Homo sapiens: one gene and its partner. The protein of the gene in region 2 purifies or fractionates together with the protein of the main gene of each other region. This does not show direct contact. Each region holds a gene or a part of one and is shown on either strand. Other genes may lie near its edges.

What was found.
Region 1: the proteins of GPR55 (region 2) and SPG7 purify together in Homo sapiens (affinity purification with mass spectrometry; 2 studies listed by BioGRID and IntAct, with this or other methods). This does not show direct contact.

Annotation. Positions count from the first base shown.
Region 1 is NC_000016.10:89,545,240-89,553,415, reverse strand, and holds part of SPG7 (mitochondrial inner membrane m-AAA protease component paraplegin isoform 1 precursor), read right to left. Parts: intron 7,545-8,176; coding exon of another isoform or gene 7,458-7,544; exon of another isoform or gene 7,240-7,457; intron 6,759-7,239; coding exon 6,656-6,758; intron 5,414-6,655; coding exon 5,303-5,413; intron 4,722-5,302; coding exon of another isoform or gene 4,699-4,721; exon of another isoform or gene 4,634-4,698; intron 2,923-4,633; coding exon 2,807-2,922; intron 438-2,806; coding exon 281-437; intron 1-280. UniProt on the Homo sapiens protein: Catalytic component of the m-AAA protease, a protease that plays a key role in proteostasis of inner mitochondrial membrane proteins, and which is essential for axonal and neuron development.
Region 2 is NC_000002.12:230,917,824-230,933,828, forward strand, and holds the start of GPR55 (G-protein coupled receptor 55), read right to left. Parts: upstream 7,420-16,005; 5' UTR 7,345-7,419; exon of another isoform or gene 7,271-7,344; intron 1-7,270. UniProt on the Homo sapiens protein: G-protein coupled receptor that binds to several ligands including 2-arachidonoyl lysophosphatidylinositol or lysophosphatidylglucoside with high affinity, leading to rapid and transient activation of numerous intracellular signaling pathways.

The DNA of each region.
Region 1 (8,176 bases), on a different chromosome or scaffold from region 2:
CGCTTCAATTTTATTCCGTTTCCTGTAGCCATTACCAACAATTAACCAATTAAATGTGTCTAGAGTTGGCATATAGGTTAAGTTTTTGTCCAATTAAATTATCTAAGAAGTCTTGCTTAGCTCCAACTCTCTTATGACCACAACTTATCTTTTACAAAATACTTAATAAATTCAAAGCTACGTCTACACCAGATTCACCCCATGGCATGCACTGGAACAGAAGGAGTCATGCAGGGAAAAGCGCTCTGAAACCTCCAGGGCCCGCGCCGCTGCTCCTCACCAGAAGTGACCTCGTTGAAGGACAGTGCTTCCGAGGCCCGTCCTCCCAGGGCCATGCACATCCGCTCAAACAGCTGCTCCTTGGTGAAGAGGTGCTGGTCTCTGGGGAGCATCTGAGCAAAGCCCAGGGCGGCGTTTGTCCGAGGGGTTATGGAGACCTGGCACAAGGTCAAGATGACCCAGGTCAGTAGGCAGGATGCGTGGGCTTTGAGGAGGAAGGTGTGGGACTAAGAGGTCTCCGTCATTAAAGCGTCTCAAAGCAGGAAGGCAAATGTGCAGCATCCTCTACAACAACAGGGGATCCTAACACTCTAGATGGCCAGCCCAGAGACAGCAGCGTTCCCACCACAGGTGCCTGTTCACACACTGCCGGGAAGTGTCTTCTCATACATGACTAGACAGGCAGGGAGTCAAGAAGACAAGGCCCGTAGAAGACAGCTGAGAGGCGAAGGACAAGTTTCACCCCCGATGGCCGCTGCGCTGACCCCTCACACCAGCGACAGCTACTGAGGGTTCAGAGCAATGAGAACCCCACGATGCTGAGGCAGCAGAGGCTGTCCTCACCTCTGCTGCTCCCCCACAGCCCCACATCAGGTGTGCAAGGAGGTGGCGCGGGGCAACGAGCTAACTCGACAACACGGAACCGCTGAGTGGGAGACGGACGGAGACGGGGCAGGGGCTGGCCCAGCTGCTGCTTCTGAGAATTGTGGCGGCGAGATGGCCACATCCAAGTGCTCTGAGAATCCCGAGGACGCTTAATTTAAAATCTAAAACTAGGCTGGGCGGGGTCGCTCACATCTGTGATCTCGGTACTTTGGGAGTTAGAGGTGGGCAGATTGCATGAGCCCAGGAGTTCGAGACTAGCCTGGGCAACATAACGAGACCCCTTCGCTACAAAAAATATAAAAATCACTCGAGCCACCAGTGGGGCATGCCTGTAGTCCCAGCTATGCAGGAGGCTGAGGTAGGAGGATCGTGTGAGCCCGGAAGGTCGAGGCTGCAGTGAGCTGTGATCGCACCACTGGACTCCGGTCTGGGCAACAGAGAGAGAGACCCTGTCTCAAAACAAAAAGAAGCTCTAAATAACGGCTGCAGTGATGATTGCATTAATGACCAAAACCATAACAGCCAATTCACAACCTTTTCCTGGCAGGACACTGAGCCTTGGGAAAGAGACTCACTTTTTCATTGTGACTATCTGACTTTTGCCCATCAAATACAGTAAAAATTCTTTTTTTTTCCCTTTGAGAGACAGTCTTGCTCTGTCACCCAGGCTGGAGTACAGTGGCACAGTCTTGGCTCACTGCAGACTCTGCCTCCCGGGTTTAAGCGATTCTTGTGCCTCTACCTCTCAAGTGGCTAGGGTTACAGGTACGCACCACCACGCCCAGCTAATTCTTTTGTATTTTTGGTAGAGATGGGGTTTCACCAGGTTGGCCAGGCTGGTCTCGAACTCCTGACCTCAAGTGATCTGCCCGCCTTGGCCTCCCAAAGTCCCTGCATTAATTTTGATTTCTTGACATACCGTGTTAAAACGTCGTGTTCACTGCTGAGTTTTTTAGTGTCCCATAAATGGGACCCCCAGCTGAGTGTCCACTCGCCCCACAGTGGGCCTAGCTCTGGTCCCATGACTGTGGTGCACATCGCCAAGGAGCAGCACGGATCTGGTCCCCAAACGCTGCCTCAGCCCTGCTGAGACCCTGGGATGGGCAGGACGCTCTCTGATTAACACGCAACTTTGCTACAACTCACACCTGAGAACCAATCACGGAGACCAGCACTGACAAACCAAGCTGGCAACTGCTACAGCGTATGCATTGTTTGCAGTGAACCCTGAGGTAGGAACACAGCACTGCCGCCTTCTCAGGTGAGCCTCAAACCTGCACGGCTTCCTGGGGCTCCACTGTAAAGACGGCACCTGCGTTCCGAGTAGAGACCTCCTCTTGGCAGCACTCGGACTCCCGGTGGTGGAGCCACGTCTTAGAGAAGCTGTAACATCACCATTTGGTAAGAATAAATGTCCATCGAGTTCACAGCTGCCTACAAGAGTAGTTTTTTGTTTGTTTGTTTGAAGTAGAGACAGTTTTGCCCTGTTGGCCAGGCTGGTCTTGAACTCCTGACCTCAGGTGATCCACCATGCCCAGCCTAGAATAGTATTTTTTAAATGTACACTCAACTCACTTCTTTCCAATGTTAGGAGTCATTTGGGGTGGACAGGCAAAGGCAGCGAAACCCCATTGCATGGTGTAACCTTCCACGAGTCACCCCAGTAGCAGCACCATGCTCCGATGTGACACAGCCCACTCCTGCCTCCCACGTCCGAGTTCCCGCCCATCAGTCGCCACCCACCCTGCTCCATGGATCATGACAGTGGCAGGCTTTCCTCTCACATGACCTACAGACACAGGCGGGACTCCCCAGTCAGCTACAGACACAGGCGGGACTCCCCAGTCAGCTACAGACACAGGCGGGACTCCCCACCCACCTTTGGCCAAGGCCCGTGGAGCCGGCACCTGCCAAGACCCACCTTCATCACGGCCTCCGTGTGCTCCAGCATCCAGCCCACCAAGGCGTGGCCCGACTCATGAAACGCAACCACTTTCTGTTCTTCCTTGGACAGGATCTTGCTCTTTTTGGCAGTCCCTGAAAGAATGCCGGGGTATGAGTTGGGCGCGGTGGCTCACGCCTGTAATCCCAGCGCTGTGGGAGGCCAAGGCGGGCGGATGACCTGAGGACAGGAGTTCGAGACCAGCCCGACCAATATGGTGAAACCCCGTCCCTACTAAAAATAGAAAAATTAGCTAGGTGTGATGGCGGGCGCCTGCAGTCCCAGCTACTTGGGAGGCTGAGGCAAGAGAATCACTTGAACCTGAGAGACGGAGGTTACAGTAGGGCAAGATCATGCCACTGCACTCCAGGCTGGGCGACAGAGCAAGACTCCGTCTCAAAAAACAAACAAAAAAGAATGACGGGGGGGTGAGCTGAGACCCCGGCCTCTCCCTGGCTGGGCCCTGCTCCTGCCCCGTGTGGTCAAAGCAAGCCTCTCTCTGCACATCTGCCTCTTGGAGCTGCAGCTGCGGCTCTGGACACCCCAACTCAAAACGACACTCTTCAGGTCAAAGGGCTGTTGAAGGAGGTCGTGATTTCTTCTTTTATAAATGTTGCAATCATCGAAATAGCTCCTGCTGCTTTTAGGAACAAGTGCAACCCTCTGAGGAGTGTCTCCTCCTGCCCCATGGTTGGGGGGGTGCCACAGGGTCGGGGCAAGGGTCACAGAACAGCAGCTTTTGACTTTCTCCCTGGCAGGATGGGCAGAGGCCTCCTCTGAGTTACGGGCCTCCTGCTTACTTTCCCTCTCCCCTCAGACCTGGAGGCGCAGCTCCCATCCCCATCACTTTCTGGATCCTTATGGCTTCTACTCACCCCTTCAGAAGCTTTTTGCCTCAGGGACAAGGCTTTTTTTCTGTCAGTGACAGGGTCTCACTCTGTTGCCCAGGCTGGAGGGCAGTGGTGCGATCACGGCTCACTGTTGCTTCAACCTCCCAGGTTCAAGCAATCCTCCTGCTGCAGCCTCCTGAGTAGCTGAGACCAGAGGTGTGCTCCACCACCATGCCTGGCTAATACTCTTTATTCTTTTCTTTTAAGAGATGGGGTCTTGCTGTATTGCCCAGGCTGGTCTCAAACTCCTGGCCTCAAGCAACCCTCCTGCCTCAGCCCCCAAAGTGCTGGGATTACAGGCATGAGCCACAGTGCCCAGCCAGGGACAAATGTTTGCATTAAATCTCCCCTGTTCAGCTTACTGGTGAGGCTTCATTTCCTGTCTCAGATTTTCCACACATCTGTAAGTGTCCATTCTGTACAACTTGAATCAGCTCGTGGTCCTGAGCACTCAAGTACGTCATGTATTTTCTTTCAACTGGCTTGTGGTTCCCACTCAGTCCTTCCTGCTTTGCTACTATTATCAAAAGCTTTTCGATTTCCACATAAAAGTAAATGGTTACACGAAAATAAATTTCAGTAAGACACAGGCAGCGCCAGTCCTCTCGACCCGCAGGGCTGTCGGAGAGAAGCCAGGTGTGTTTTGCAGTGTCTGGCACAGCAGCTGCCCCACTCCTCTGCAGGAACCCACTGCTTTCCCAAGCTGAAGCCCTGGGGACCTGCAAGAGGCGTGTTCGTGCTAGGAATTCACTCGAATTGAGGGTGAGGAACTCGGTTCTCGCAGGGATAGCTCGCAAAGGAGGCTCGTGCTCCTCAAACACCTGGGGCAAGAACCACTTCCCTTTTCAAACGTTCAACCTGTCTCACACTGACAGTGCGGGTCTGAACTCCATTCCATGAGATGACTGATCACGTCTGGGTGTTGCCATCATAGCTATGGAAACCTCCAGCAGCTCCGATTCCCAGTTTGGTCCTCTCTCCTCACAGACGTCGCAGACCCCACACTGAGCAGCCACGGAACGGCAGTCAGAGGCGGTCAGCCCACCGGTCACCCGTCACCAAAACTCATCTCCCGTTCCTACTGACGGTCGGGACCATGAGTTTCACCAGAGGTGGTGCTGCAGATCCACACCTCTCCGCAGAGCCCCTGCTGCGCTGAAAGCACGGCTGTCCCTCCACAGCCACGGGCGGCAGCAGCCCTCCGGCCCACAGTCAGCGGCTGGAGCTCAGCCCCCATGAGGCTGGGGCTAGGCTGAGCCCACCACACCCAGGCTGGCAAGACATTTTTAGTTTTTATTATTTTTATTTTTGGGGGGCATTTTTTATTTTTATTTTTTCACTTTCTTTGGCAAGGCATTTTTTATTTCTGTTGGACGAGCGTCTACTCTTAGGTAAATCTGTGATATTTTAAACTAAGGAAAAGTACAAGGTATCATAAAGACATGAGTTACGCAGAACTGAAACGCAACGTGTGTTCCTTCCTGTGTGATGGTTCCATCCACCTCACCTCTCAATACCTGCCTGGGTATTTCTGGGGTTCAAGCCCTGCTAAGGAGGGCCTTCACCCAGGGCGCGCCCCCTGTACCTGCGAGGACGCGCTCCACGGCGTACTCGAAGTTGAGAGTGTGCACGGAAGTGTGTCCCTCCCGCGCCGCGTGCAGCGCAGCCTCATTGCAGATGTTGGCGATGTCAGCCCCTGTCAACACAAACAGCCACGGTGTGGGTGGGTGGGTTTCTGCTATCAGGGCTTAAGAGGAGGAAGGGGCCCTCAAGGGAGAACAAAGATGGCCGGGCATGGTGGCTCACCCCTGTAATCCCAGCACTTTGGGAGGCTGAGGTGGGCAGATCACCTGAGGTCAGGAGTTTGAGACCAGCCTGGCCAACAGGGTGAAACCCTATTGCTACTAAAAATACAAAAATTAGCCGGGCGTGGTGGTGAGCGCCTGTAATCCCAGCTACTCAGGAGGCTGAGGCAGGAAAATCGGTTGAACCCAGGAGGCGGAGGCTGCGGGGAGCCAAGATCACGCCACTGCACTCCAGTCTGGGCGACAGAGTAGGACTCTGTCTCAAAATAAATAAGTAAATAAATAAAAGGAAGAACAAAGAGGGAAAAGAGACCAAGAACCAAGAGTGCTGGTGAGAGCGTCTGGGAGAGAGGCACGGGGAGCTGGCGCCAGGAGCAGAGCTGGGGAGAGCGGCAGGCGCCGGCGCCAGGAGCAGGGGTGGGGAGAGCGGCAGGCACTTGCACCGTGTTCCACTGAGGCCATTCCACAGACGAGACACAGAACCGCCAGGCTCCATCCGCCCTGACGCCCGTCTCTCCTCCCAAGGGCAGTTAGTTCCACACCCCATCTTGTGGCTGATTCCACCTAACAGCTCATGAGCATTGATGGCAAAGAAATTAAAGGCTCTCTAGTAACCACAAAATTCTAGTGAAAGACCCTAACGAATAATCAAAGGGCAAATTCATCTCATAATAAAAGGGAGGTTTGTTGACATTAACTTTTAAAATGTGAACCACACAGCAGGAAAAGCATCTTGAGGTATGATTTCTATTTCTACAACTTGACAGAGACCGTGAGGGTCAGAGGGAGGCGGCTTTGCCGGGACTGCGTGGTCTGACTCTGGGTCTGACGGGAAACGCCGGCATGACTGGTCACTGTGTGGAAGCAACATAACTCCACTATCTCTGGAAACAACACAGACCGGGAACCACCGTCTGCTTTTCCACCCCGGGGCGGAGGACGGAGTGCGGGTGCCGTCTGGACCTCCTGCTGCCCCACATACACATCAGCTCCCTCCCAGGCTTGTACTGAGCAGAGGCCCCCAGAGAAGGAGCAGCGCCCACCCCACAGAGGAGGCCTCGATGCTGTTTGCGCAGGTGACACCACCTGCCCTCAGGACGTGACGCTGCCCAGGCTGCGGGTTGAGAACGTACCACTGAATCCTGGTGTCAGCTCTGCCAGACGCTGGGAGTAAAAGGTGCTGGACTGGGTCAGCTTCAGGCTCTTCAGGTGCTGCTCAAAAATCTCCCGCCTCTCCTGCCAGAACCAGGGGAGGAAAGACAGTCGGGCTCAAGCCTAGTTACTGCCACAGGTGCGGCATGTTTGTCTGTGGGGGGGGGGGGTCCCCAAGTAGCTGGGATTACAAGTGTGTGCCATCATGCCTGAGTTTTGTATTTTTAGTAGAGACGGGGTTTCGCAAAGTTGGCTAGGCTGGTCTCGAACTCCTGGCTTCAAGTGATCCACCTGCCTCGGCCTCCCAAAGTGCTGGGGTTACAGGCGTGAGCCACCATGCCTGGCCACAAGCAGCATTTTAAACACGAACAGAACACTGTTGGATGGCCGGGCCCGGTGGCTCACACCTGTAATCCTAGCACTTTGGGAGGCTGAAGTGGGCAGTCTGGCCAACACGGTGAAACCCCATCCCTACTAAAATACAAAAATTAGCCAGGCAAGACGGCGGGTGCCTGTAATCCCAGCTACTCGGGAGGCTGAGGCGGGACAATCACTTGAACCTGGGAGATGGTGGTTGCAGTGAGCCGAGATCGCGCCGCTGCACTCCAGCCTGGGGGATAGAGTGAGACTGTCTCAAAAAAAAAAAAAAGAGAACGCTCTTGGAAGGAGAGGTGGGTGGGGATCACTTGAGGCCAGGGGTTTGACACCAGCCTTGGCAACACAGCGAGACTCTGTTAAAAATTAACCAGCACGGCGGCGCACGCCCATAGTAGTCCTAGCTCCTCAGCTTGAGCCCTGAAGGTTGAGGCCGCAGTGAGTGGTGATCGCAGCACTGCACTCCAGCCTGGGTGACAGCGCAACACCCTTTCTCTAAAAATTGAAAGAAAAATTAAAAAGAAAAAAGAAAAAATTATAGCAGAATAGCTAATGAAGCACGTCACACACAGCAAATGCTTATTCTGCAAAACTTCCAATTCCCACACATGTTCCATGCGTCTAAATCCTGATGTAAAATGTTTCTTACACAGTCAAAAAGCCAGGAGCCGCCCTCCCCTGGAGAAGCTGCCCTCCCCTGGAGAAGCCGTGTCCCCTGGAGAAGCTGCCATCCCCTGGAGAAACAGTGTCCCCTGGAGAAACAGTGTCCCCTGGAGAAGCCATGTCCCCTGGAGAAGCCGTGTCCCCTGGAGAAGCCATGTCCCCTGGAGAAGCAGTGTCCCCTGGAGAAGCCGTGTCCCAGCGGGAAGGGCTTCTGCTCCGCCCTTCACTCTCCATCCCAACAGAGACTGAGCACCGGCTGAGAGCCGCTGAGCCCAGCCCTGCTCCCCAGGCTGCACTGATGGAACATTAACCCACCAGCAGACCCGGAGGCCCTCTCTCCAAACCCTCCGCTCCATGAGCTGAACTCCTGCTCCCTCAGGGCAGCAACAAAGGCCCTTTGGCCAGGAAGTGTAACGTCCAACCAGAGCCCTGTGACAGAGGAGGGATCAGGCGAGAGGCCTCAG
Region 2 (16,005 bases):
TGTCTCAAAATAATAACAAAAATAATAATGACTATTTAAAAATAAAGTGAGAACTACAAAACTAAATACATGTGAAGAATAGCAAGAACTTTTTGGATTGGTTGTTTTAAAAAAAAAAAAATTCACAGGATACAGCCAAAACTATTCTCAGAGATAAACACATTGCCCTAACTGCTTTAATTTTCTTTAAGGACATTAAATAAATGAATTAAGCACTTAACTTGAGCATTTAGGGAAAAAATGTCTTAGGGAAATCAGGAAAAAAGTATAAAGATAAAAGTGGAAATAAAGGAATTAGAAAAGAGAAAATATCAGAATCAACACATTTAATAGGTGGTTCCTTCAGAACAGAAGCAATAAACGAAGCAATACCTATATCTCTAACAACTATGATCAAGAAGAAAGGGCTCAAATGGTCATAACTAGAAATAAGAAAGAAGACATTAAGCTGAGTTAGAGAGGAGAGCAAAAATAGCAAGAAACTGCATTGTTACGTGTGTGTTGATCTGTTGAAAAACCTTGATGTAGTTGTTGATTTGGGGGCAAAAAATAATTTACCACAATCTATACAAGGTTTGACACAAGAAGAAATAGAATTATTGACTAGACCAATAACCATAAAAGAAACAGAATATTATCAAAGAATTACTCTTAAAATAGGCTCTAGCTTATTTCAAATTTTCAAGCAACAGATAATCCCCGTGCCCTATAAAGTATTTCAGAACATAGTATTAATGAATTTCTATTAAACTAACTTATCCAAATAGCGAAACTCAGCACAAAAGAGACAGACTTGCTCAAATACAATTATGAATATATATGCAAACATCCTAATTAAAATATTACCAGGTGGAATTCAGTACATTAACATTATAAATCATCATGATGAATCAGATTCACTATAGAAATGTAAGATAGTTTCAGTGTTAGGAAATCAATTAATGTTTTGTATCACATCATTAGAGCAAAAATAAAAAGTCATCCAATTGTATAAATAGTTTTTTGAGTTATTTAACTAATGGAACAGGAAAGTACTTCTTACAAAGAGTAAATTGCTCACACCAATGACAACTTTGTATTTAATGGTAAAATAGTAGGGACATTCTTGTTGAAATCAGACATTTACTAACCCAAAAATCTCAGACTATGCACTAACACATTTAACAGAAGCAAGAATAAATGAGGCATTCCACAAAAATCAATAATACAAAGGGAAGGCTTAGTTAAGAAATTATGTTAAGAATTATGTTAAGACTGTCAGTTAACAATTTGGGAGTAAAAACCAACTTAGAGTCTCATCTTACACGGTATCTCAAAAGAAATTCCAAATTCATCAAGGAATTACATTTCAAAACAATCAAATCATAGAAAAACTAGATGAAAATTTAATAAACAACTTATAAAATCACTAAAGGGAAAAGCTCTTTGTCAACTTAGCATAACTGAAAATCAAAGAAACAGAAAATAAACAGGACAGGTTTGACTGCACAAAAAAAATTCTTTTTGCTAAAAAGTCTTAACATCAAATAATGTACTCGAAGAAACAAAACACAATCAATGTTAGACAAATGACGTTCTTTCTCTGAGAAGAGAATATTAAAATGAATAACATCAAGAACAACAATAGAAGAACAAGCCAATGACATAGGCAGTTCCCAGAAGAGGATTTACAAAGAGATAACATTTTTGCTTATCAAATTTAACAAAGAATTTGGCAAGGGTTCTGTGAAACCAGTCACCAATATGCTAGTAAGTGTACAAATTAGCACACCACTTTTGGGATTTGATAATTTCTATTACAAGCCATGAAAATTGTATGTCTTTAATCCAGTGATTCTGAGAATTCACCTTAAGTAAATTATATGAAAGAAGAAAAATTGTGTACAAAAATATGTCCACCTTGGCATTTTTTCTTCTTATTCTTCTTTGCCTCACTGTATTACCACATTACTTTTTTTCTAATAGTAAAAAATACATACACACATGTAAATGCCAACAAGAGGTTAAGTTCACTACGGTAAATTTACTCAATGGAAAATTTTTCTGTCTGACTGTTATGTTTATGCTGACTATGTTGAGTAAAAACCCCACAAACTATAGAATTAGACATTCAGAATGATTTCAACTGTGATTAAAATTACAAAAACCCACGCATAGAGGGGAAAAAAAAAAAACCTAAAAAAAGATTTCTACATCCCAACCAGTGGTTGCATTCTAGCAGTTGGAAGGTGGGTGATTTTTAAAATCTTTTATCTTTATCTCTGTCTTTTGTGTGTGTGTGTGTGTGTGTGCTTTTCTAATTAGTTAATGATAATATGAAAACCTGAGATTAAAAAAATATATATATATAATGCTTGGTGGGGAAAAAGGAGACCAGTAAGGATAGCTTTCAATTTTTTCCTTCTGTATCAGAGAAACAACTTGTGGTCTGGGTTTGTGTTTGAGGCATGGCAGGGCGCAAGGTTTACACAAAATTAAAAGTTATGCATTGAATTCACCAAAGCTCAGCTGATGAGGCATGACCTTTCAGGGTCAGAGATGAGCATTTCAAGATGGGGCTGGGAACGAAGCATGAAGTGAGAGAGAGATGTGGGAGTGTCAAGTGAGACAGCAATCCCACCCAAATGATGGGAGAACAGCAACAAGAACCTGATTCATGATTTTTTTAAAAAAAAATTGAAAAATAAACAAGTTTCCTCTGTTCACAGGTCAGCCATCACATTATAAAAATGTGTATTACATAAGCAGTAAAAGACGACATAAAAGAGACAAAATGCCAGCTTCATAGTGAAGAGTAGGTGAAGGTAAGAAAAGAGATTTAAAATATAATTCCCCCAAAGCTTGGCAAGCTATCAATAGCATCAAGAAGTTAAGAACTTAAATATTTTCCAAATTGAATATTTAGGTTAAATCACCTTGTCTATCTTAACGGGACAAAAGGAAGAGAAGATTCACAGTAGAAACTGAAAATGAAAAAACTATAATATCACAATATAGAAAACAGAGGGGCAACCTCACAGAGGTTTATGCAAATTTATAAACAATTGTTAATACTCCCTATATTAATCTATTAAAACCAACCATCAATTTAAAAAAAACAAAATTCAATCATCTTTTGTCAAGGAAAAACACTAAGAAAATGAAAAGACACAGAGTAAAATGATAGCATAATCTTTGGTTTATCAGGCACATTTTGTGCTAGAAAGGAAGGGAATAGGACAAAGTAATTTTTTTTTTAGTAAAAAGAATTGAGAAAGTAACATGGAGACTCCACAAGAGTGAAAGTTACAATAAATAATGAAAACTTAAAACACTCAATTTCTGTTCCAATTAGCACAGCAAACAAGTACATAATGGGACCATGCAGGAAATGCAAAAGAAATTTTAAAAAATGGAAATATAATGTAGCTGGAGCCCTTAGTGCCCCTCCTGTGGAATACCCATGATCAAAATAGACAGAAATTAGAGCTCTGAACAACCCAACTAATAAGGTAGACTAGCAGATCAGGGAGAAGTACATCATAAATCAAGGGTCTATGCTCTCTTTAGAAGAATAGAAGTGTCTTTCACAAAATTTACCCCATTCCCGAGCACAGGCAATGGCAATTTTACACTCCTCATTCTCGGACCACAAAGAAAATAGCTGTTTGTTGGTCCTGACCACTTAGCTGCAGTGCCATATTAAAAATACAGGCATTTCTATGCATTCTTTTACACAGGCTCTTCACGTGTGAGTCAGAGACAAAATCAGACGTACATTGCTGAAATATTGTAAAGAAACAATATTTATACACAAAACACAAACGCAGTCACCACTTTAAGGAAAGTGGGAATTCCTAAGTGTTCTTTTAAACATGAAAGGGAGAAACGAGGTGAGCCAAGGCTACACTCAAAGATCCTGGAAGTGGAATGGGAGTGACCATGGCCAATGCACAGCTCTGATCACCCTAGGACCCGAGGCTGTCTGTCTGCAGGGGCTGAACTCGGAGGGGCTAGGGAACCACAGCATGGGAGAAGATGCAGAAAGGCCTAGAGATGCTCCTAATCCCTAGAGGGAAAGGCACAAGGTCATCCATCCTCCAGTGATCGTGACGTGTTCCACCATAAGACTTCACAGGGTCAGAAAAGGAATGGGTTCCAGGTGCTGCAGAAAGCAAACCTATCTCGCAGCCAGAGTGTCTGAGAGTAGACAAAGCAAAGCAGCCTCGTCATGTGGAGGGCTCTCTGTCACCAGAGGTATGCAAGCAAAGGCAGGGCTATGTGCTTATCCAGGGTGCTGTAGAGGGAATTCATGCACACAGCCGTGTCTTACTGAAGGGTGTTTTTGTTTGTTGATTTTTAACCCTGAAGTAGAATCTCCTTTCAATATAAGGCTGTTTTCCAATGTTTGGTGAAAAGGAGAGAAAGTATGTGACGTGTGGAAAGGGACTGGGGTGGAGCACAGAGGCCTTGCTTCTCCTCCTGGCTCCCTCTGCTTGGGGGTTTCCGTCTCATTTCTTCCATCCTCAAGGCCCTGCTCAGCCCCGAGCCCGGAGCCCTGGCCTCAATGTGCTGATTTGTTTGTTTGTTTAAGTTAGCATCTTGCTTTGTCACCCAGGCTGGAGTGCAGTGGCACAATTGAGGTTCACTGCAACCTCAACTTCCCAGGCTCAAGCAATCCTCCCACCTCAGCCCTCCGAGTAGCTGGGACTACAGGCATGCATCACCATACCCAATTAATTTTTTATTTTTTGATTTTAAAATTTATTTTTATTTATTTATTTATTTTTGAGATGGAGTTTCACTCTTGTTGCCCAGGCTGGGGTGCAATGGTGTGATCTCGGCTCACTGCAACCTCTGCCTCCCAGGTTCAAGCAATTCTCCTGCCTCAGGCTCCTGAGTAGATGGGATTACAGGCATGTGCCACCACGCCCGGCTAATTTTGTATTTTTCGTAGATACAGCGTTTCTCTATGTTGGTCAGGCTGGTCTCGAACTCCCGACCTCAGGTGATCCACCTGCCTCCCAAAGTGCTGGGATTACGGGTGTGAGCCATCGCTCCTGGCCTAATTTTTTATTTTTTGTAGAGACAAGGTCTTACTGTGTTGCCCAGGCTGGCCTCAAATTTCTGGGATCGAGCAATCCTCTTGCCTCTGCCTCCCAAACTGCTGGGATTACAGGCGTGAGCCCGAGCACCCGGCCTGTGCTGGTTCTTAATTGCTGACTCTACACATTCTGCAGCTGGGATTCCCGCAACTGCCAGTGGTCCATGGTACCCTCATCCGCCCACACCCTCAAGGATCCAGTGTCCCACTTGCGGCAGCCCTGTGGCTTTGCCTGCACAGCTGAGACCTCGAAACCCAGCTATGTGGCTCCACACCAGACCTACCTTTCTTCCCTCTGTGGCCTGGACTTTCCAGAGAACACAAGCAACAAGAAGATCACAACCCTAAGGAGGGTTGCAACTGAGAAGGTGGCCCTTCCTGCAGCTGCCAGGCTGTTATCTGCACAGAGCATTGCAGCGTGAGCCACCTCAGAGATGGCAGGGCCAGAGCCTAAAAAAGCAGCATTGGCACAGCCGCAGGGATGGATTTGAGGAGCCCTGGAATACTCCCCCAAAAATGCCGCAGTTAGAATACACAGCGTATCCACCAGTAACACCATAGTGTGAATAAAGTCATCCGCCTGTGCCTGAGCTGGGCTTCTGGGGGCCACGATAGAAGAAGGAACAGGACACAGAGGGGACAGAGCACATGACCACAATCTCCCCAATGCCTGAATGTTGCTGGAGCTTGGGCTGGGGGGTTGGAGTGGGGCTGGGAGAGGGGAGGGGCCGGCTTGGGGACGTGAAAGGTGGCCAGCAGTGTGCTCAGTGATCTACGATGGGAACTCAGGACACTCCTAGGAGATTGCCCTAATTATGCCCATTTTACAGATAAGGACAGTAAGGCTTAGAGATGTTAAAGATTCTACCCAAGGTCAAAAAGGCCGTGAGGGACCAGCTGGAACTCATGTTCTGAGTCTCTCCTCCTCGCTCACCCTGGCCCCCATCAGCATCACAAGCAAGAGCATCTGGGATCCAGGAGTTGCCAAGCCCCCTCCTCACTTCTTTGCATGCTCATGCTCCTCTTTCTCCTTGGACTCTCTCCTCCACTGCTAAAAATCCCACCTCTTCCTTGAAATGCCCACTTCCCAGGTTCACCCACATCATCTGATGTGGTTTTCCCAGTGCAGTCCTGAGTGGGTGCCTTGAAAAGTCCTCTGTGTATCCCAGGGGGAGCGTGTCCCTGCTGTCCTCCAGCAACCCCAGGACCAGGACCATGTCCCTTTCACCTTTATCACCGAGCCTCACATACAGTTTGTCGTTGGGAAGGTCTTATTGCATGAAAGAGGGGGTGAAGAAATGACGGAACAAATGGCCAGGTCTGCTGCAGCTCCACAGTGACTGGTGCTCCCTTTACAGCTGGGACAGCCGCTCAGAACCAAAGGCAAACCTTGCCTTCCACAGAGCTGTGGGCGGCACTTTGCCCTGCCCTGTCCTCTCATCCCCACTGCCTCGGGCAGCACAAAGCCCAGGTGAAGCCAGGCCAGCCAGACATGTCCTGACTTTGTGTTCTCACTCTCAGGGAAGAATCTAGAATGTTCAGGGTTCTAAGTGCTGCTGTGTCTTCCCGCCCAGCCTCTCCAAGAGACACTTGGCTAGGGTTAGAGAACAATGCAGCTATAATGTAGGATAGCAACCAGGGCTTTCCTCTCCATCATTTACTGCCCTTGAGCGCCCCGTGAGGAAGAAACCGTGTATTGCCTCATGCCCCAGAGAGGTAAACGGAGGCTAGAGAAATTACGCAGCTGGTGAGTGGGTGAGCCTGGGCTCCCAGGCTCCTTCTGGTCCCCAGTAAGCACTTGCTCAGGGCTGCAGGATGATCCCTGAGAGTGTGTCATCTCGGGCGCTTGGTGGTTTCCCAACAAGATTCTGGGGAATGGGCGGCGGGCTTGGTGGAGGGCGGTGGCACGTGAGCTACATGCCCCGGGAAGGCTCCCAGGCTGCCTATGGGGAGGTTTCCCGACCCGACATGATGCTGCAACCCTGAGTCAGATCAGGAGGAAGTTGAGGGTTCGTAGAAAAATGTCACTCGTAATCGGGGACAAACCAGGTCTGCCTGCCGCTGCTGCTGTCACGGAGGCTGCCTGGAGGCTGCCGCTGCCCTGACACCTGGGACTGCTCGCTGAGTTGGGACAGGTGTGCACAAAGCCCAGGCCCACACAAGCCCCACTGATCTTAGGAGAGTTACCTGCAGTCCACAAGAGCAAGGTCAGGTTGGAGGCTCCGTGCCTTAGTTTCTCTAAATGGCCCAGAGGCTGTTACCTGTTGGTGGTCCGGTGCAGCTGAGAGGGCTGAGAGATGTCATTTCTCCTCCAGGCCTGGCTGTCAGCCTGTTCTGGGGAGAGTCACTTCCCCTCTCTGGGTCTCGACTTCCTTGTGAGTGAAATAAAGGGGTGGGACCAGATGCTCTTTGAGCCGCTCCAGTGTCACCCTGTCTGGCTTAGGGGCTCTTGCTCTGGGGTCTACAGAGAGGCTGTGTGGAACTAGAGTGTGGACATGGGGAGCAGTTTCCAGGAGGAGGGTCTACACTCTCCCGCCCTCTTGGAAGATCTGCACGCCCCCCTCCCGCAGCTCCAAAAAACAAAACAAAAAACCAAAAAGCCAAAAATCACACTGCATGTGTCAAGCCCTGGGAAGCCTCTGGAGGAGGAAGCCTCCTACGCACCCCAGACACCCTAACAGGGGCACCACACAGGGGCAGCCATTCTCAGCACCTGCCAAGGGCCGTCGTGGCTTCCAGCACTTTGGGGGTTTAGGATTTGAAACTGCTGCCCACAGAAAGGAAAGGAAGGTGGTGCTATTTAGTACTTGCAGGTTAGGACTTGCGTGCCTAGCGTCGGAGGAGACCTCAGCCACTGCATGTGTGTCTGCAAGAATGGTCAGTGGGGCCCCACAGGTTCCCCAGCCTCGGCTTCTCTGTCCCAGGCCTGCACAGAGATTTGGGGCAGCCTTGGGCCTGTGGCTTCCTAGGGCCCTGCAAGCAGAGATTTCCCTGGCATCTCCCACCTTCAGGGCTGGGAGGGCTGAGACTCACCCGTGGGCCTGGGTGGCTCTTAGCTGGGAGCCCTCATAGATTCCAGCCCATCAGGAAAGTCTGGGCTGAAACTACCCCGGCAGATGCAGCTCTCATGCCCTGGAGGTGCTGGGAGGCCCTGTCGGAGGACCAAACACAAGCAATTTTTAAAAGCTATGCGTGCTGGGACTTTCAGGTGTCTACAGGAATAGAAACTACTCCTGGGTTTTTTGGATGATTCATCCAACACATGGGTCCCCTCTGTAAATAACACCTTGCAAGTCACTGCAGGGGAACCACCTGGCCCTCTGGAGCTGGGTCTTCCCACTGTCTGGTGAAGAGGTTGATGGAACCATGACAACTTTTAAGCTCTCACCTGGGCTTGTGCGATGGGCAGTGCCAAGTCCACTGCCTGCTCCAGGCCGTGGAGCCCCAAGCTGGCCTGGGTGCCAAGACAGGGCACAGGGCAGTCCTGCCCCCAGCGAGGCCCCCCTACTGGGCCACCAGCCCAATCTAAGCCAAAGGCTGGCTACTGGGCAAGGGGGGGCAGCCAGGCCCGCACCCTGGGTGCGGGAGGAGGCCAGGAGCCTGCTGGGACAGTAGCAGGGAGGAAACACACCGGTGTCTGGCACCCACCTCCATACCCAGAGCCTGCAATGTGAGGCCCCAGGAAGGCATCCACACTGAGTGGCCTGCAGGGAGCAGTGTCTCTGCTCAGCCCCTTCTCAAAGGGAGCCTTGTCTACTCCCATTCTGGCTACCTTCTTTTTTTTTTTTTTTTTTTTTTTTTGATACAGAGTCTCGCTCTGTTGCCCAGGCTGCAGTGCAGTGGCACTATCTTGGCTCACTGCAACCTCCACTTCCCGGGTTCAAGTGATTCTCCTGCCTCAGCCTCCTGAGTAGCTGGGATTACAGGCTTGTGCCACCAGGCCCGACTAACTTTTTTCGTATTTTTAGTAGAGACAAGGTTTCACCATGTTGGTCAGGCTGGTCTTGAACTCCCGACCTCGTGATTCACCCACCTCGGCCTCCCAAAGTGTTAGGATTACAGATGTGAGCCACCGCTCCCGGCCCTGGCTACCTTCTTTTAAGAAATGAATATTTCTACTTTATTGCTGTTGCAATATTAAAATTTTTAAATTTTTAAATTTTTGAAAACATGCACATGATTCAAATACATATGTAAACACATATAGGAAAATATCTGTCCCACTCCTAAATCCAGCTCTCACCTACCCCCCAGGGCACCACTGTTAAGTTTCTTCCAGAGTTTCTGTGCCCGCCCGTGTACACCTGAGCTCTTATTTTCTCCCTCTTTTGACACAGAAGCTAGAGACCACACGAGCTGCTCTGCAGTAGAAGGCATTGTCCACCTCCCTCTCCTGTGGGTATCCCTTGGATACCTTGGGGGATATCCAAGGTATATGGGGGATCCCTTGCCAAGATACGTCTCCAGAGAGACTCAAAGGTTTGAGCTCCTAAGAGCAAGGCTAGGCAGGGACTCGCCCAAGGCCCCGTCCTAAGGCTCAGGCCTGTCCCTCGAGCTTTTCGCCTCCCCTTGCCACAGGCCTGGGGAGTCATAAATAGGAAGACCTTTCTCAGAAAATTTCCCTTAAGCCTCCTGAAACTTCTCCCCCTAGTCCTGCCCACCCTCTCACCATCCAGAATCACTTGGAGGTTTTGGGAGCCTGGGCAGGTCCCTGCCTGTCTTCCAGGCTGGGAGCCCCGAGTTGGGGGGTTTGGGGGCACACACCTTCGACTTCACCAGTGGAGCAGCTTCGGAGCTTCAGGAACCAGCTTCTTCTAGGGCAAGGAACAAGTGAATCTGACTGTGTTTATCAAAGAGCGGGTCCAGGATAGCTGGGCGCTCACCACATCCTCCCCTGACGCTGGTGAAATTCGCTCCTTCAGCAGCCAGAGGCCTGGCCCTGCCCTCGTGGGGCATCCTTTCCCTCCAAGGGGGGAAACCTGCCCACCAGGGGGTTTGCAGGGTGACCACTTGGCCCAGAGCTGTGCAAGAAGTGCTCCCAAGCCTGCCCCAGAGAGCTGGTCAGGGAACAGGGGCAGGGGCAAGAGCTGAACCCTAAGAGACACGGGGAGGGAGGAGGATGCTGGAGGAGGGCAGCCCAGGTGCAGGCACAGGCAGGAGGGGCACGGGGTTGGTGAGGGCCCGGGCACCCTCTGCACCAGGGTAAGGGGGGAATGGCAGGAGCCGAGGCTGGAAGCTGGCCAGGCAGGAACCAGGGGCACGGGCCGCCCCGGGGTCCCAGGGAACACACGCTTGGCACAGGGGCAGCATGTGACAGACCCACTGGGGCAGCAGGGGTTGGGTTGGGATGAGGGCACCAGCAGCAACAAGAAGGAATGAGGGCAGGAGTGGGGGCGTCAGAGTGTCTGAAAGAAGGATCCAGGGCATCTGAGGCAGCCGGACTCTGAAGATAGCCTCAGCAGGTCTCTGGCCGCCACTCCCCACAAAGCAGCTCTGTCAGCTTGGGCTGGTTGCCTAACCTCTCTGAGCCCATTTCCCCAGCCGCAAATTGGAGTTACACATCCATTCAATCAAAAAATGTTTGTGGATCATCTCCTAGGGACCAGGCAGTGGTGGTGAAGACAGATGACAGTACCTGTCTCAGAAAACGTTGTTTTAGGAGTCGGCATGGTAACAGGGGTAAGTGTACCCAGGAAGTGCCTGGTACTCAAGCAGTGACTGAGGCCCCCATTCCTCGTTGATTTATGCCTGCCTTTGTCTCCCCTGCTGGGTCTATTTGAAGGAAAAGAAAAAAAAAGGAGGAACATTGATAATGAGACCCTCATGATCCAAGGAAAAGGGGTCCTAAAAATCAGAGGAAGCCCCAACAGAGAGAGGAAGGCAGGGGAACTCAGGAAGAAGAGGCAAAGAGAGGAAGATGAGCAGCACCTGCCCCCACCCTCTGCTCCAACCCTCCAGGTGCGGCCTGGAGACAGACTCAAAGGGTTGAGCTCCAAGAGCTGGGCTAGGCAGGGACTTGCCCCAGGCCCCATCCTATGGCTCCCCATCTGGCCTCTCCCCTCCCATTCTGCCGGGAACACTTCTGTTCCCAAGCCCCACTTCTTTATTTTATTTTATTTTTTGTAAAAATAGAGATGGGGTTTTGCCATGTTGCCCAGGCTGGTCTCGGACTCCTGGACTCAAGCGATCCCCCACCTCGGCCTCCCAAAGTGCTGGGATTACTGGTGTGAACCACTGCATCCGGCCACCAAGCCCCACTTAAACATTGAGCCCGGATGACTCCCCTGCACGGTCAGCTGGGTGCTATACCACACGAAGCCCGTTCCTGGAGCCTTTGCCAAGTCCCTGAGGACTGACACCCTGCCCCCTAGGTGCTCACAAAGACAGGAAGGTGCGTGCCCCCAAGCCCCCCAACTCGGGGCCCTGATAATCCCCCTTAGCAATTGAAGATGTCTCCTTGAAAGTGGGCCCATGGTGGCTGAGGTCAGTGATGCTTAATGTCAAGGCAGAAGGGAGTAAAACACGCAAGGGGGCAGCAACTGTCCAGAATGCAGCCTTCCCCTCCCATGTCACCCCACGTGCCCCTCTGTCACTCACTGGAAATGTAACATCAAGGTTACAGGAGAAGGTTGCAGATGCTCAGATATCTGTGCCTTCTGTTCTTGTCATGATCCAGCCAATTCTTTTAGAGCCACCAAGCTTCTCCCTGCAGTCATCCTGCCCATGGCTGTTGATGGCCCTGATGGGGCTTGGAGCCCCCAGAATGTGCAGAAGTTGGACAAAGGTGGTCTTCAAATGCAATGGTTGTCTTATCACCGAAAGCCCACGGCATCCAGAGGAGGCCCTTTACTACGAAGTTTACAGAGAGCACAGGTCTCTGTACGTCCCAAGTTTCCCCTGCTGCCAAATGCAGGGGAGGAGAGAATTCTGGAAGCCCACCCTGTCCCATGGCTCCCCTGGCACATGGAGCCACTGAATGTCTTGTGAACATTAAACAAATGCTTCCAAGTGAACACCTCTGGCTCTGTCTCATCCAGGTCCTCCTGAGGCCCTCCTGAGGTTTGGCGCTCAAGGGAGCAGAGTCCTGGGCTAAACCCTGGCAACAGCTTCCCAGCATTCCCTCCACTCCCGCCGGGCAGCCAGGACCCCCCCGCCTCCCACCTGGGCCTTGGGGCCAGGAGTCAAGGAATGAGGGGATTCTGCTCACCTCTGAGTACCCCCTCTGGCCTCCCAGCAGCTCCCTGTCCAGGCCACCAGGTCACAGCTACTGAGCTACACTTGTTTATTTCTCAGGGACACGGGGATAGGAGTGTGAGCAGATGGTGGACCCTTTTGAAATACTTATTTTCTTTTATGTTTCCTGTTGCATAAAGTGTACTATTTCCTTTGCCCACATGCCCATCAGGAGCCTAATATTCTGTTTTCCACTTTAGCTATTGAATTCCTATTCTTCTTACGTGTTGAGTCTTTTCTCCCTACTTCACCCCTTCCCACCTCCCCTACACACAGACATTTTTATCTTTGGGTTTTTTGTTTTGTTTTTCTTTTCTTTCTTTCTTTTTTTTTTTTTTAGACAGAGTCTCACTTAGGCTGGGGTGCAGTGGCATGATCTCAGCTCACTGCAACCTTCGTTTCCTGGGCTAAAGCGATCCTCCCACCTCAGCCTCTCAACTTCCCAGGACTGCAGACACGTGCCACCACGCCTGGCTAATTTTTGTACTTTTGGTACAAAATACAAAGGCATTGAGAGGTTTTGCCATGTTTCCCAGGCTGGTCTCCAAGTCCTGAGCTCAAGCAATCCACCCACCTCAGCCTCCCAAAATGTTGGAATTACAGGCTTAAGCCACTGCGCCTGGCTCAGTTTTATCTTTGTTTTGCGGCATGGAAATTGTTAATTGTGTCGTTCGTCTCCATGAATTATCCTGTAGCACTTTAATAATGAACCTATCTTCACCCTTCTGTAGTTTGAGTAACTAGGACATTCATTTCCTTCCTGAAAGTCTTTTATTTAATTCTGATTTTTAAAAAGTATATATTGGGGTGGAAGGTAAAAAAATCTTCTCCAATACTGAGGGGCTGACAGGTGAAGGCTATGGGGAGGTCCCCACCTGCCCTACCTACCCGCCACTCCCCCGGGAACTGTGCCAGCACTCACACCCTATTCTCCTGCAAAACGCTTTGTCCTGAGAGCCTTACCCCACATGCAGAGCTACCACCTCTGCTCTTTAATGCCATCAAATATCTTCCAGGGCACACCACACTCCAGTACCTGGCTCAGTCTTCATCTCCACCCCAAGTCCTCCCGACTCTTCAAGGAGACGTCATTGCCAATGGTGACAGCTCCCTCCAACACTGACCCTGCCTGTCCTGAGGACCACGCCGAGGGCAGTACACTTTACAAATTAAGTCTGTTCATTCTCCAAACACCCTGGGAGGTGCAAACGATCAACAGCCTTGTTGACAGAGGAAGAAATTGAAGCACAGAGGGCTGGAGCCCTGTGCCCAAATGTGCACCACGAGCTTGATGCAGAGCTGGGATTGGGCCTAGGAGATGGCACCTAGAGAGGCCGATTTCTACCTGTCCCACCTTGCTGAACCCTCACCAACCCCATGAGGCAGGACCCACAGGCACTCCCACTTTACAGGGTGGAAATGGAGGCATTGAGAGGTTTTGGCAACTCGCCTGATAAGCCCACTTGTTAAGACGCTGAGCAGGAACACAGTGCACCTGCTGCTGCCACAGGCCCCGACCGCTGCACCCACGAGGGCCCCACTTCACAGTCTGGCCTCACGGTGCGACCTCCTGCTGCTCTCACCCCTGCCCATTAGCCCCATCCCCATGAGAGCATGCGGGGCCCCTCTGCTCCCCTTCCTTCCACACCCTGAGTGGTGCCCCACTCCACTGCCCGGGCCACCCCTGGCCCAGTCCATTCGCCTGCTTGCCCACTCCACCCCAGCCCCTTTAGCCCATGGACAATGCTCCTGGAGCCAAAGGGAACCATCCAAATGGCAGTCTCAGGGCACCAGCACCCCTCACCCCTTCCCTGGTGGTAGGGCAGCCCCACCCCAGCCCGGTCCCGTCGAGGCCACTCCACACCTCAAGGCCTCACCTCCAGCTCCTCACCATCCCCAGACAGCCTGGCCTCCAACTTCACAGAAAAAAATCTCGGTTCTGAGGCGTGAAGCTCCAGCTCCTTGTCCTACAAACCAGCCGCGGTCTGCACCCAACCAAGTGACAAAGGTACTCTGCTGCTTAGAGAAACACCTCCACGCCACCAGCCCGCCGACCTTCTCTGGGCGCCTGCCCGTCAGGTGGTTGCAGCTGTTTGTGGGAGGCATCCAGAGGGCAGGAAACATGTTAGAGGAATTCACAAGATTAAAAACTCATTCCCTACATAATTGGTGCTGAAGGCAGAAAATTACCACCGGCTGGATGGATATTGTTTCTATCATCTAAGGTGACTAGAAGTCTTAATTTGTGCATTATATCATTTTGAAATTACAGAGATTTCTGTAAAGGTACATTGCATTCTGTTACATAATGCACATAACGTTACATGAAGGGGAAGCTACTATGGAAGGAAAGTCTTCAGTGTTCATTAAAATAGTTGGATCTACACCTCTTCTAAATGAAGACAGCATGGCTGTGAATGTTTATATGATAAAGGTACATAAAGCTCCGAACAGAAGGACATGTTCATTACAAGGACAGTCTCCACGTGGGGCTCGAAACTGGCCAGGTCCTGCCTCTTCCAGCTGCCCAGCTGTGCCTGCATGAGCCCCAATCTCTTGCTTCGTGTCTGGCCGTCATCCTAAACCAGGCCTCTCTCCCACTCTTGCACCACCTCCTCGCTTCCTGTGACAAGGCACACCCTGTTCTAGCCCAGGCTCGGCCTGGGACTGCCTCCATCAGGGCCTCAGTCTGCACATCCCTGTAGCTGTGCTACAGGCAGGACTGCTGCTCTCTCTCTCTCTCTCTTGCATGCGCTCGCTCTCTCTAATTCTCTACATGTGAGGTCACAAGGACAAATCCTAAGGGAACAGAAGCCGGACTGAACTCTGACTTCAGAGCCCCAGGATCGTGCTCTCACGCTGATCTTTGGCAACGATGAAGGGAAAATGGGTCTGCTTTCACCCGGCTGCTTCCAGCCCACTCCTTTCCCTGCCCCTTCCTGCCTCTTCCCCCTTCCCTGCTACCCTCCATCACTGCCTTCTGGTCCTGTGCCCTGTCGCCTCCTGTGGGCCTAGCCAAGCCCCTGAAGTCCCCTGCCCCGCCCAGCTCCCCCCTTCCCTCCGCCCTCTCTGCCTGGCCTGCCTCTCTGCTCTTCACTCTTCCTGTGCTCTTGACTTCCCTTCTGGCCTTTCTCTGGCCTCCAGCCACCTGGGCAGACTGCTCCACTGCCCCATCTCCCTCCCATCCGTCCACCGCATCCTCCACCTGCCCTCCGTTGGCCCTTCCTGCAAACCGTCTCCTGGGACCCTGATGTCCCTGCTAGGGGAAGTCAGGAACCTACTGAACACACGGGGCAGCCCATGGTGTGCAGCTGCTGGGCAGCCTGGCAGGCCCTCCAGGAAGCCCCCATCTCCAAGGGAGCTCTCAGCCACCTGGGGACTGGCCTGTGGCAGTGGGTGGCTGTCCCTCCTCAGGTTGGTCCACAGGCCAAAGAAACTAGAGCAACCTCCTTTCATGTCCACCCTCAGTCCCCTTAGGCTTTCAGAGCGGCCATAGAGGTGGTGGCTGGACTCAGGGGACTCAGGGCCTCTCTCCTTACAGGGCTTGCCTCTTATCCAGGAGCAGCAGCCCCTGCGCCGGCAGCATTCCCCACTCCTGGAAGTCAGCGTCTCCAGGAGGCAGGGCGGGGGCTCCCTTGGCAGGGCAAAGGCTGCCTGGGTGGGGGCAGTGACAGCAGCGGGATGAAGCT